Linked DNA regions of Homo sapiens: region 2 is linked to region 1. The links come from fine-mapping of genetic effects on gene expression. A gene starts in region 1. The other region holds a variant in brackets. All regions are shown on one strand. Distances are from middle to middle.

Region 1 (2,500 bases):
CAGGTTAAGAGCAAGACTTCTAATGATACCTTTGAATGGCCCTTTGTATTTGAGGTGGCCTTATGCAAATAAACAGGCACAGTTGACCCTTGAACAATGTGAGGGTTAGGGGCGCCAATCACCTGCATAGTCGAAAATCCACCTATAACCTTTGACTCCCAAAAAGCTTAACCGATAGTCTTCCGTTGACCTCACCAATAACACAGTCGACTAACATATATTTCGTATGTTTTATGCACTATATCCTGTATTCTCACAATAAAGTAAGCTGAAGAAAATGTTATTAAGAAAAATCATAAGGAAGAGAACATATTGCATTATTCATTAAGTAGAAATAGATCATCATACAGGTCTTCACCCTCATTGTCTTCACGTTGAATAGGCTGAGGAGGAGGAGGAAGAGGAGGGGTTGGTCTTGCAGTCTCAGAGGTGGCAGCCGCAGAAGAAAATCTGAGAACAAGTGGATCCATGCGACTCAATCCTGTATTGTTCAAGACTCAACTGTATATTTTTGCATATGGGCTCAAATACGTACGCACATATGTCACTGGGTCAAAGATTCATAGAATGAATTAGACAACAAGAATATTTATCATTGAATTGAAATGGCTCACTGCAAAAGTGCCCTCAACTTATCTCTAGGCCTTAGAAACAGAAGTGACCCTTTGCTGCTGTGAATCAATAGCCTGGACTAGATTGGGGTTGGGTTGGCAAAGGTATATAGTCATTGCCATAGTCCAGTATTCCTGCCCAAGCAAGCACCATTAGTAGTCACGTTGCTCAGAGAGGGCCTCTCGGCTCTCCCCACCACTGCATGCTGGATTGTCTGCCACCAGTAGATCAGAGTTGGCAAAAGGGATAACTCGGGATGAAACATTTGAGCATTTTGCAGTTTAGAGAAACTTCAGGGGTGCTGCTTTAGTAAAAAATGGAAGACTTGCATTTATTAAAGGTTAGTAAGAAGTGAAATAATGTATGCAAAAGTACATTATAAATTAGAAAATGCAATAACGGCAGAAACTATTTATTTATTGGTTGCTCTGCCCTTTACCTAAGTGGTTTTTGACCATTTAACAATGTGTAAGAGTTGGGTTTTACCTCCATTTTATGGATGTGGAAATAGGGCTTGGATGTTAGCTAACTTGCCCAAATCTTACAGCTAACAGAAAGTGGTACTCCCGAGATTCCTACCCAGGTTTGTCTGACCTCAGGCCTGTGCTCTTTATATGAGTTCATGCTAACTCTCAGATGATGTGCTAGGCACAAAAATTAGATATTACACCAATTTCCACTATAGTTAACATTCTATCTAAATATAAAGTGGGACCACGGTCTTAGATGAATGTGGCTGTTGAGAGCGGCAATAATCCAGAATGGCTACTCTGATCTACGTTGATAAGGAAATTGGAGAACCAGGCACCCGTGTGGCTGCCAAGGATGTGCTGAAGCTGGAGTCTAGACCTTCAATCAAAGCATTAGATGGGATATCTCAAGTTTTAACACGACGTTTTGGCAAAACATACGATGCTCCATCAGCCTTACCTAAAGCTACCAGAAAGGCTTTGGGCACTGTCAACAGAGCTACAGAAAAGTCAGTAAAGACCAATGGACCCAGAAAACAAAAACAGCCAAGCTTTTCTGCCAAAAAGATGACCGAGAAGACTGTTAAAACAAAAAGTTCTGTTCCTGCCTCAGATGACGCCTATCCAGAAATAGAAAAATTCTTTCCCTTCAATCTTCTAGACTTTGAGAGTTTTGACCTGCCTGAAGAGCGCCAGATTGCACACCTCCCCTTGAGTGGAGTGCCTCTCATGATCCTTGATGAGGAGGGAGAGCTTGAAAAGCTGTTTCAGCTGGGCCCCCCTTCACCTGTGAAAATGCCCTCTCCACCATGGGAATGCAATCTGTTTGCAGTCTCCTTCAAGCATTCTGTCGACCCTGGATGTTGAATTGCCAGCTGTTTGCTATGACATAGATATTTAAATTTCTTAGTGCTTTGGAGTTTGTGTGTACTTGTATTAATAAAGCATTATTTGTTTAACAACATAATAAATACATAAATATAAAGTGGGTCATATTCCTCTTTATGTGCATCTGTCTCAGCTGTCCCTTGTTTCTATATTTCTTCCATACTACAGCCCGTACTCTTTGGGGATATGTCAACATGATTTACTTCTGTAGAGAAACAGGAGACAGGAAATAGCAAAGGATAAAGGAGAAAAGGCCAGGGCCAGGCCAAGAACTTCTACATCTTTTCTTCCCAGCCTAGTGTGAACCAGATGAAAGCCTTAAGGAGGTCCTAGCAGCAAAGGGAGATAATTAAAAGAATGAGAATTTTGTGGAATGCTAAAAAAAAATAGGGAACATATTTGCAGCTAGGACTAACACTGATTATCTTAAAATGTCTATATGGCTAAATAATGTTCATGAAATCCCGTATCTTATTCTGCTAATGTCTTACAACTTAAAGCACTTTTATGTCCATGCCTTGAATTCTGTA
Region 2 (3,032 bases), 74 kb before region 1:
CATTATAAGGACTTTGACTTTTACTCCAGGGAATCTGGAAAGCCATGGGAGGATTCCAAGCCAAGCAGTGACATGGCCCAAATGATATTTTAGCAGATTCAAGTGGCTGCTATGTTAAGAATAGACTGCAGGGTGGTGAGGGCCGAATCAGGGAAACCAGTTAGCAGCTCCTGCATTCTAGGTGAGATTACACATTAGGTACCACCAATGGCATTTGGGGTAAAATGAAGTGGGGTTGCTGCAGGGTAGAGAGCTTAGTCAGCTTACCCAGTCTGAGTAAAATCATCGACATCCATAACTAGCTCTGACAATTTACAAAAAAATTCTCATTGACCTTAGACAAATTTAGATATCATAATTTAAAAATGACGTGCCATCTAACATTTGCCAAACTTTGTACTTGGTGCCCAGACCCACGGAACCAGCTCGGGTGGAAAGTGAGAACCCCAAGTAAAGGCTGGACATCGTCAGAGAGCTGCGTGGAGCAGTTGCTTGTGTAGAGCAATGACAAATAGGAGAGGTTGCTGGAAAAGGAAGTGGAACCAGTGCCCAGAGTTTTATCTGCTTTGTCCATAAAAGGAGATTAGATACTTCACAGAAGCCTACTCTGGGGCTTAAGTATACAGTCCACCCATTCTCTCACTGCATTGATTTACCGTTGTCTCTTGCATTGTAAGCGTGAGTTCTTCGTGCAGTAAAATTTTTGTTTATTTCAATTGCTGAAATTCTAAAATCTATGTTGGCTATCTGCTCATTTTAATTTTTTGCATCATATTTTATTAATCTTATGCCTTTCGGAAAGCAATTTCAGGGATCTAGTATTGCAGACAATTGGATGTAATATAGTCTCTGACTTTGATTTTCATTTTCTTGTCATGAAGAATATTTCTTATAGTTAATTAAGATATTTGGGAACTGGGCGCAGTGGCTCACGTCTGTAATCCCAGCGCTCTGGGAGGCCGATGTGGGTGGATTGCTTGAGTTTAGGAGTTTGAGACCAGTCTAGGCAACACAGCGAAATCCTGTGTCTACAAAACACTTAAAAATTAGCTGGGTGTGGTGGTGTGCGCCTGTAGTCCCAGCTACTCAGAACACTGAGCAGAGGATAGCTTGAGCCCAAGAGGTCGAGGCTGCAGTGAGCCACGAAGGCACCACGGCACCCCAGCGTGGGCAACAGAGCCAGACCCTGTCTCAGAAAACAAAACCAAAGGAAAGAAAGAAAGAATTAGGAAGAAAGCTAGGAAGGAAGGAAGGAAAAAGAAAGAGGAAGACAAAGAAAGAGAAAGAGAAAGAGAAAAAGAAAGAAAGAAAAGAAAGAAAACAAGATATTTGGGCATAACTTAACAGACTCTATGTTATTATTATTATTATTTAGAGACAGTTTCTCACTCCAACACCCAGATTGGAGTGTGGTGGTGTCATCACAGCTTGCTGCAGCCTCAACCTCCAGGGCTCAAACCATCCTCCCACCTCAGCCTCCTGGGTAGCTTGAACTACAGGTGTGCAACACCACGCCCAGCTAA[G/GT]TTTTTTTTTTTTGTATTTTTTTATAGAGGTTTTGTCATGTTGCCTAGGCTCATCTCCAACTCCTGGGCTCAAGTGATCAGCCCACCTCAACCTCCCAAAGTGCTGGGATTATAGGATAAGCCACCACCCCAGCCTTCACAAACTCTTTAGATCTAACTGTTATGCCTTGGATTGACAGGGTTGGCAAATTACCTGGCGCTGGTGTTGCAATGCTGCCTCCTCCCATGCTTGAGGCAGGTGCTGCTTCTCAATCTTGCACCCTTTCCCACTGAGCATGGACTTGCCTTACAAGCCTCGTCCACTCAGGGCTCCAGAAAGTCACTATCAATCAATGGGAACAAGCATACCCAGTGAACCACCTTACTATCCTAGGGTTCTAGCCAGTATAGTCTTATTTTTTGCCTTTATTGATGCCATTTTTTGGAAATGGACCCACTACCTTATTATGCACATTTTGAATTTAAGTAAAAATATATAATAGCAATAGTTTGGATTCCTAACTAATATGAGCATTTAAATACCTAACTGATGGATTTAATGATGATTAATTTTGTTAAAGGTCTTCTTTCTACATCAACGAAAGATTTTAATTCTAGATGTATATATGGTTCCCATGGTTCCCTTAACTTTTTAAAAGTAAAGTGGCCTCTGTTTTCTTTCAGGCTCTGAGCTTTTCATGTGATTTAATAGCATCGATGGTTCACAATTTTCTAGAGCTCTGCAGCCATCTTAAAGCTGATATTAATGTTCCTGGCTTTTGGCAATGAATAACTAATTATGCTGCAAATAGCTAAATTAGGAAAGAGTCTATGGGAGAAGCCCTAAAAGAATGATCCATGGCAGGATTTTGGGAAGAGCTGGAGGTGCGGAAGTTGTCCAGACAGGAAAAGTGCAGCAGCCATGATGGTCGGTGCCTTCGCATCAGGGTTTTCACTCGCTGAGCCAATGGGTCCATAGCTGATGTCAGCTAAATGCCCATGGTGGTGAAGAGCTCCACACTCCTTGTGTTCCTGGGTCATACTCCGTCAGAAGAATCAGAAGCTGAAGCAGAATCATTGGAGCATTTGGCCCTATTCTCTGCTTGCTTTTGTTATCGGTGACTTAAAGAGGGACCAACAGAACACCTTCCTGGGCCTTGAGGGAGCTCTCTGTTGCCATCACCAAGGCCCCATTGGCCCACGCTTCTACCATGGTGTGTACCAGCTCTCCTGGGAGTCACGTGGCCACATATCAAGGGGAAGGAGCTACTTCCCTCCTAGAGCAATGGCACCTGCAGGTAAGAGCTGAGTGGTGAGCTCTTACTTCTGCACTCTGCACTGGGCCAGTATGGATCTCCCCAACCACATTTGACAGTCTTCATCCTGCCATACCAGGTATCACCATCTGCTTCAAAGTCCCCTTTACTATTTGTTCTACAACTGCTAGAAAACCTAAGGCCAAATAGATTGATAGCAAGCTGTCCCCTAATTTCTAAGATAATGCTGTATAGATTTTAAAAAGAATTTCAA

The links. PIP is the estimated chance that this variant, and not a neighbour inherited with it, causes the effect. A credible set is the group of variants that fine-mapping cannot tell apart.
Region 2: its variant is the best candidate, but not a certain one, in a credible set for the expression of PTTG2 in whole blood (INTERVAL, PIP 0.68).

Annotation. Positions count from the first base shown.
Region 1 is chr4:37,959,062-37,961,561 of GRCh38, forward strand. PTTG2 (pituitary tumor-transforming 2) reads left to right here and starts at 1,337. Exons shown (of 1, transcript NM_006607.3): 1 at 1,337-2,067. The coding sequence starts at 1,374. The coding sequence ends at 1,949. All of the region lies in intron 2 of TBC1D1 (TBC1 domain family member 1), which reads left to right.
Region 2 is chr4:37,885,169-37,888,200 of GRCh38, forward strand. No RefSeq gene overlaps it. Among named protein-coding and RNA genes, the nearest start is that of TBC1D1, 4.4 kb to the right of the region's middle. The variant G/GT (reference allele first, on the strand shown) is at 1,524.